Regions from separate parts of the Homo sapiens genome. Here region 2 is linked to region 1. The links come from fine-mapping of genetic effects on gene expression. A gene starts in region 1. The other region holds a variant in brackets. All regions are shown on one strand. Distances are from middle to middle.

Evidence for each region. PIP is the estimated chance that this variant, and not a neighbour inherited with it, causes the effect.
Region 2: its variant is the best candidate, but not a certain one, in a credible set for the expression of ADAMTS3 in sun-exposed skin (GTEx, PIP 0.71).

The regions. Positions count from the first base shown.
Region 1 is chr4:72,567,452-72,571,837 of GRCh38, forward strand. ADAMTS3 (ADAM metallopeptidase with thrombospondin type 1 motif 3) reads right to left here and starts at 1,770. Exons shown (of 22, transcript NM_014243.3): 1 at 1,243-1,770. The coding sequence starts at 1,311.
Region 2 is chr4:72,591,963-72,596,348 of GRCh38, forward strand. No RefSeq gene overlaps it. Among named protein-coding and RNA genes, the nearest start is that of ADAMTS3, 25 kb to the left of the region's middle. The variant C/T (reference allele first, on the strand shown) is at 2,605.

The DNA.
Region 1 (4,386 bases):
ATCACCTTGTGAGTTTTATTTCTACCATTAATGGTTTCCAAGAGCTAACTAATCAGGAGATGCTAGAGACTGGGATTGGTGCCTAAAGCCTGCACCTTGGTTTGTAGAAGGTTCCATGAGCCAATTCCATAACAATTTGGGGAAGGGAGTTGTTTGCCCCTTTTCATTTTAATTTAACACTTATGAAGCCAGCAAAAATACATACAGACTCTCAATGCTCTCTTCTGAAATGTCGTACTGGGTCTGGATTAGAAAAGAAAGTATGAATTTAACAGGCCAAAATACACCTAACAGGGGGCCTGATTAATCAGATTTAAGGTCAGGAATCAACTAGACAATTCTCTACTTTTTACCCTATGGTCGTTCAGACCAGGCCGACCGGAGAAGCTACAAAAACTAACAGAGAAATTCTGTACCCAAAGTCCCATCGGCCCAGTGCTGATATGATTTACTACAAACAGCTCCCCTGGCGGAGCCTTCTCAAGGACTCTTCTGAGAGCATCGGGCTTCACCTTGAGCCTCCAAAGGGTTGGGGGCAGGGCCGAAAAGAAACAGAGCTGCACTCAACTTAGCTTTAAAAAGAGGAGGAGTTGTGCAGAGGGGGAGGGGAGAAGGCGGCCGGCGCCTGCAGCCTCTGCCCAGGAAAACGGAGGGCAGGAAACGTCTCCAGCCCCCCTCCCCAACTGTCAAATCCTAGCCCGGCCGTGGTACTCCCAGGACACGTGTCTACTGGATCTCTCCCTGTCCGGCCCAAGGACTTCCTGAAACCCCCGCCTCCGGCTGCCCGAAAAAACCGTGAGTCAGTTCGGAGGAGAGAAAGCTCCAGGAACCCGACTCTGGCGGCAGCAGCCAGAGCGCTGGGATCCCGGACCCAGCGTCCAGAACTTCATTCAAGCGCCCAGACCGCCCTCCAGAAAGGGGAAGCCCAGATGGCCCGGCGAGGATGGGAACTGGCTGCGGTTTGTCACTAGGAATTGTTACGAATGTCGCAGACTGGTGAAGCCCTAGGTGTGACAAGACTGGGCTCCCGGAGTGGGAGTCGTAACCTCCCGTGCAACTCAACCCTCTACCCCCAAAAGCCCGCACGCTGCGCCCAGCCCTCAAAACACCGTTTCTGAACGCAAAAGATAACAGGGAAGGGTGGGAGGAGAAGGAGGAAAGAGAGGAGGGTAGAGAGGGGAGGAACTTTTCGGGAAAAGGTTGGGTTTGAGTTTTTTTTTATTGTTATTATTTTCCACTTACTTGTCCATCAGCTGAAGTCCTAACCTCTACCAGAGCGGCTGCTATCAACCAAAGTGACAGGAGAACCATCACGAGTCGAGTTCACTTTCCAACTACTGGGCAAAGCAAATGCCCAGAGCAAACCCACCCCCCCCGCCCAAAATAAGTTTCTTTAAGAAAAAAAGGAAAAGGGAAAAAATGCGAAATAGAAAAAAATGATCTTCTGTGCTTTGCTTCAATGAAAATGAAATTTGAGCTCTGAGACTGGCCCCCTCTGCTCTGCAGTTTTTTCCACTTCACCTTCTCACCCCGTCCTCCCAACACAGAGTGTGCAGGAGCGAGAAGGTGCTGTAAGCGGGCACAGGCTAAGCCTGGGAGAGGGGGAAGGGACGAGGGGCTTTCCAACTATCTCTGCCCAAAGCAGCTTTTTCGAGGCTTTTCGAGCACCATTGGTCCCTAAGGTTAGCGCGGAGAATGCTTGGGTTCCCCGGAGCACAGCAGGGGGAAGTATTAGCGAGAGAGACGAGCGAGCGGGAGCGGGAGAAAGAGGCAGGGAGAGGGCGACTCCGCCGCACACGCAGAGGTGGGGGCGGGAGGAGCGAAGGGGAGGAGGAGAAGGCAGGCGGAGGAGGTGGGAGGAGTGGGCCGCTCGCCGGCTCCTGTTGCTCGCAGCGCGGCAGTCTGCTGGCTGCTGGCGACCCGCGGGGCGCTAATAAGGCGTCCGGAGCTCCCCGGACTGCCCCTCCCGCCGTGGCGCCCACGTCATGCGGGGCCCGAACCCGCGCCCCCCGCACCGTGTCAGGATTGGAGACCGCTCGGGGGCTGGTGTGGCCCGGGCTCGACCTCCCACCCTGGAGCCTCTCCTTCTCCGCCTAGGGCGAGAGGAGGGGAGGGTCCAGGGGCGCCACCGGTCCCGACTGGCGGGACGCGCGTTGAGTTAATTATAGGAAGGGGGAGGGTCCGAGGGCTGGTCCTGGGCTGTAGGAAATTCACCTCCTCCAACCTCCACTGTTCTCCCAGCCAGAGAATTCTCCCCGAAGAGAAGCCCTGGAACCTCCAGATCTTAACCACGCGGTGATCTCCCTTCCAGGCACCAGTCACCTCCCACGTTTTGGCAGGGGGTGTCCTTCTTTGTAAGCTCTTGTTTAGGCTTTATTCGTTTATATTAGTTTTAAAAGATACCACGTCCTTTCCTTGACTCACCCGGATGCTTCCGTTTATCACTAGAGTACACAGGCCTCAGCGACTCTTCCTCACACCCAGATTAAGTTATCAAATGATTTCTGCCCGCTGTGGCCTGGCGCTTCCTGAGGGGAAATGACACCAACCTGAGAGTTTGCTGGAATCCTAGCCCAGGCCCACCTCCCAGGCGTAGACACCTGTGGGTGCTTTCCAGAAAGCAGACAGGAGGAAAAGGAAATAGCTCCAACCTCCACTGACCGGTCCACGAGCCAGGAGTGAGTAGACACAAATTTAGATACGAACTTCAAGACTTCAACTGGACAGTCTTGAAGAGGCCTGCCCACAATAAAACGAGCTAGTGTTTATCTTGTTATGAGATGCAAGATAAGTCATAGTTCTTGTTCTTTTTTAAAAGCAATGTGAGTTTGGAGGGTTTCCTATAACTTCGATTCATTGTTTATTCCTGGAGAGGTAACGTGATGGTTGTGCCTTTAACTTAAGCATGGAAAGATTTGGTGTTCACTGATGTTTTATCTGCTAAGTCTTCTCAAAATCATATATCGAGGACATTTACATATACAAATGAGAAACTAGGTAACTAAATGGCCCCACCTAGTAAAACAGGATATTAGGTCAATTAGTTATTAATTGGAATTAGAATTAGACCCCAGCACTGAAGTATCTCTAAATTACTTTTTTCCTTCAATTAAAGCCTGTAGCATTTTTGTAACTTGTCATTAACTAGCTATCCAGGAGTGATTTGCTACATTTTACACCGAGTTTGTCTATTCATTAAAAAGAAGTAACCCTAAGCATTCCATAAATGAAAAATCTGTCAATTTACACTGACAAGTAAAAGAACACTAGAGATACACATTAGGAGATCTAGGTTCTAGACCCAGCTAACAGCTGTCTTACCTTGACAAGTCAGAATAAACCTCTATTTTGGTTTCTCCTCTATGAGATATTTGAGATCTAAAATCATCTGATTTTAGGTAATAACAAATAATGTATTTAACCATGTTATTACAGTAGGCCCTTTTGTGTTAATTTTACAACATTCAGACATTAGTTATCACCTAACTCCCGGCATAGCAAGCAATTCATGTGACTTTCAGGAAAGCAGCGGCTTCAGACATTTTTGGCCATCACCACAGAGAGAAATGCATATTGCATAGCGACCCAGTAAAAATTTCATGATTCAGTACTTACCTGTACTGCATGCAACAACCCTGATATTTTTCTTGCCATTCTTTCCCTGCAACCCCAATTGCAGATGAGCACTCAATTGATTTCACAACCCAGCAAGTCATGACTCTCACTTTGACAAAGATCAGTTTAAGAGCATGCAATAGGGTTTTTTTTTAATTCTAAATGAGTTCTAATTAATAGGGTTCTCCTAATATATTCTAAGGCAGAGTTTCCCAAAGTATTCCCTGGAATATTAAATGTTTTACCAGGAAAAGGAAAATTCTCAGACAGCCAACTGAGCTCATGAAATACTTAGATAAATGAAACAAAATGGCTCTCCTTATTTCAGACTTCAGGGTACCTATTTAAACAAACACATTTGTAGTCCCAGCTACTCCAGAGGCTGAGGCAGAAGAATCGCTTGACCCCAGGAGGCGGAGGTTGCAGTGAGACGAGATTGTGTCACTGTACTCCAGCCTGGGCGATAAAGCGAGACTCCGTCTGAAAAAAAAAAAAAAAAAAAAATTGTGAGTCTTCAAGGGGGAGATGTAGTGCAATTTGGTCTCCTTACTTACATGACCATAGAATCCTTTTTTCTCATGCTTTATCCTCTGTGGAACACACATGGGTAAATGACATTACAAAGCCCAACTATTAAAGCAAAATGAACTTCAAGTTAGATAGGTTGGATTCTCATGAGGATTCAGCTTCAGTTTTCTCAACTCTAATATCGGTTTCATAGTACTACTTTTGCAAACTCTTCATGAAAATTAACATGATCTTACATGTAAA
Region 2 (4,386 bases), 25 kb after region 1:
AGGTCGGCATTGTCACTTCAGAGTTCTCTTTTCTCATGGTAGCCTGGCAACCGAATTGCGTCTCTTTGATGGAGGGCGTTCCTACTAGAAAACAGCTTTATGAAAAGTGTCAGGGTCATCTTTAGAAACCCAAAGAAAACAAAACAAAACCCCCCAAAAAAAGCCTACCACCAAGAAGGCAAAGAAAAAAAAATCTGCACAACTCAATTATTCAGCTGCACACAACTGCGCCTGTCAGGTCTTGGTAAAAACACTCACTTGAATTTAATTAAGTTTGTCCATGTAGCCTGTGAACTGCTCGCCAGACCTGCTGGAAGGGGATGAAAAGCCTGACGGCAGGCCCCGTGAGGCCATTGTTGATAAGGAAGGGCACAACATTCTCAAGTTAGGTAAATTCCCATCCCCTTGCACACAAAATGCACTGGGGTAATATCCTTTTGAAGGGTGTGTCAGAAAGTTGGGTTGCCTGAGAGCCAAGACAGAGGAGAACTTTTCCCACCAATAACATATCCACTTCTTCTGGAGGCAGTGTGCTGAATGGTAAAGTGCCTGGTCTTTGGAAAGCTAATGGCCTTTGGAACTTTGAAGTCAAACAATTAGATTGAAATGCCTGTTCTGCCACTTACTCGTTCTGTTATTCTGGGAAGGTTAAGGAACCTCGCCGAGTCTCAGTTTCCTTATTTGTAAGCTAGAAAGTCAAAACTACCTGAAAGTTTATCAGGATTCAGTGAGGTCCTATTGGTAAAATGAGATACTGTTGGCTCTCAATGACCCTTCTCCTTATTTCTCTACTTAAATCCTCTAATGTGTATTCCCATTTATTATAAAATAATTTCCAAACTTGGAAACATGATAGAGTACTTTCAAAATCAAACCTTGCCAGTACATGCCTGTTGCCTCCAAATGCCTGTCAGAACTATCTGTCTTCTCCCTTGTGCCTTTTTATGCTGCAGTACCTGCCATACACTTTCAATCTCTTGACTAAAATATCTTTTCCAGTCATTCTTCAAGACCCTATTCAAGTATCCCCAAGTCTTGCCTTAGCTCTCCAAGGCAGAATTAACCACTGTGGGCCTTAGGTTCCCAGAGCACTTTGTACTTTTCTCAATTAAAAAATTTTACCTTCTAGATTGACTTGCTTTTAGTTTTTCCTCCAACAAACCATAATCTCCAACAAACCTATAAAGGATTCGTTGGCAACCATTTACTTTTATATTATTCAAATATTTAACAAAGTGTTCAATAAATATTTAACTGATGAATAGGTAATTTCCAGAGCATCTTTAATTAAGCCACTTTAAAATTTACATTTAAAATGTTCTGTAAACAGATGCTTATTGTTTTTTGGCATCACCCTAAATTAGCACAGGATACTCATATAAAAATCCATAAATCTGAAATGTAAAATATGATAAGGAGTATTGAAATAAGAATAAAAGAGTTGGAAAGTAAACAAATACTAATTTGTAATCTATACACAGCTTGGTCAGAGTATGCTGAAAACTCCTTTCTAATAAAATAACAAACCCAGTGCAGATATGGTAATTACTAGAAATTTTACCTATACAAATATTTGCAAGCAGTTTCATAAAAATCAAATTATTATTTTGATTTTAGTTTTATTTTGATTAATTTGAGTAAAATTATTTTGATTTGTTTTAAAAATAATTTTTAATTATTTTGATTAATTTGATTTTAGTTTAGTAAGTTCCTTTCTTTCTGAAAAGTTTATTCTATTGAAAAACGACAGTGAGGGCAGCCAAGATGGCCGAATAGGAACAGCTCCAGTCTACAGCTCCCAGCGTGAGTGACGCAGAAGACGGGTGATTTCTGCATTTCCATCTGAGGTACCGGCTTATTCACACTAGGGAGTGCCAGACAGTGGGCTCAGGACAGTGGGTGCAGCGCACCGTGCACGAGCTGAAGCAGGACAAGGCATTGCCTCACTCGGGAAGCGCAAGGGGTCAGGGAGTTCCCTTTCCTAGTCAAAGAAAGGGGTGACAGACAGCACCTGGAAAATCAGGTCACTCCCACCCGAATACTGCGCTTATCTGATGGGCTTAAAAAACGGCACACCAGGAGATTATATCCCACACATGGCTTGGAGGGTCCTACGCACACGGTGTCTCGCTGATTGCTAGCACAGCAGTCTGAGATCAAACTGCAAGGCGGCAGCGAGGCTGGGGGAGGGGCGCCCGCCATTGCCCAGGCTTGCTTAGGTAAACAAAGCAGCTGGGAAGCTCCAACTGGGTGGAGCCCACCACAGCTCAAGGAGGCCTGCCTGCCTGTGTAGGCTCCACCTCTGGGGGCAGGGCACAGACAAACAAAAAGACAGCAGTAATTTCTGCAGACTTAAATGTCCCTGTCTGACATCTTTGAAGAGAGCAGTGGTTCTCCTAGCACACAGCTGGAGATCTGAGAACGGGCAGACTGCCTCCTCAAGCGGGTCCCTGACCCCTGATCCCTGAGCAGCCTAACTGGGAGGCACCCCCCAGTAGGGGCAGACTGACACCTCACAAGGCCGGGTACTCCTCTGAGACAAAACTTCCAGAGGAACAATCAGACATCAGCATTCGCGGTTCATGAAAATCCGCTGTTCTGCAG[C/T]GACCGCTGCTGATACCCAGGCAAACAGGGTCTGAAGTGGACCTCTAGCAAACTCCAACAGACCTGCAGCTGAGGGTCCTGTCTGTTAGAAGGAAAACTAACAAACAGAAAGGACATCCACACCAAAAACCCATCTGTACATCACCATCATCAAAGACCAAAACTAGATAAAACCACAAAAATGGGGAAAAAACAGAGCAGAAAAACTGGAAACTCTAAAAAGCAGAGCGCCTCTCCTCCTCCAAAGGAATGCAGCTCCTCACCAGCAACGGAACAAAGCTGGATGGAGAATGACTTTGACGAGTTGAGAGAAGAAGGCTTCAGATGATCAAACTACTCTGAGCTATAGGAGGAAACTCAAACCAAAGGCAAAGAAGTTGAAAACTTTGAAAAAAGTTTAGACGAATGTATAACTAGAATAACCAATACAGAGAAGTGCTTAAAGGAGCTGATGGAGCTGAAAGCCAAGGCTCGAGATCTATGGGAAGAATGCAGAAGCCTCAGGAGCCGATGTGATCAACTGGAAGAAAGGGTATCAGTGATGGAAGATGGAATGAATGAAATGAAGCGAGAAGGGAAGTTGAGAGAAAAAAAGAATAAAAAGAAACAAACAAAGTCTCCAAGAAATATGGGACTATGTGAAAAGACCAAATCTACGTCTGATTGGTGTATCTGAAAGTGATGGGGAGAATGGAACCAAGTTGGAAAACACTGCAGGATATTATCCAGGAGAACTTCCCCAATCTAGCAAGGCAGGTCAACATTCAGATTCAGGAAATACAGAGAACGCCACAAAGATACTCCTCGAGAAGAGCAACTCCAAGACACATAATTGTCAGATTCACCAAAGTTGAAATGAAGGAAAAAATTTCAAGGGCAGGCAGAGAGAAAGGTCAGGTTACCCACAAAGGGAAGCCCATCAGACTAACAGTGGATCTCTCGGCAGAAACTCTACAAGCCAGAAGAGAGTGGGGGCCAATATTCAACATACTTAAAGAAAGGAATTTTCAACCCAGAATTTCATATCCAGCCAAACTAAGCTTCATAAGTGAAGGAGAAATAAAATACTTTACAGACAAGCAAATGCTGAGAGATTTTGTCACCACCAGGCCTGCCCTAAAAGAGCTCCTGAAGGAAGCACTAAACATGGAAAGGAACAACTGGTACCAGCCGCTGCAAAATCATGCCAAAATGTAACGACTATCGAGACTAGGAAGAAACTGCATCAACTAACGAGCAAAATAACCAGCTAACATCATAATGACAGGATCAAATTCACACATAACAATATTAACTTTAAATGTAAATGGACTAAATGCCCCAATTAAAAGACACAGACTGGCAAATTAGATAAAGAGTCAAGACCCATCAGTGTGCTGTATTCAGGAAACCCATCTCACGTGCAGAGACACACATAGGCTCAAAATAAAAGGATGGAGGAAGATCTACCAAGCAAATGGAAAACAAAAAAAGGAAGGGGTTGCAATCCTAGTCTGTGATAAAACAGGCTTTAAACCAACAAAGATCAAAAGAGACAAAGAAGGCCATTACATAATGGTAAAGGGATCAATTCAACAAGAAGAGCTAACTATCCTAAATATATATGCACCCAATACAGGAGCACCCAGATTCATAAAGCAAGTCCGAGTGACCTACAAAGAGACCTAGGCTCCCACACAATAATAATGGGAGACTTTAACACCCCACTGTCAACATTAGACAGATCAATGAGACAGAAAGTTAACAAGGATACCCAGAAATTGAACTCAGCTCTGCACCAAG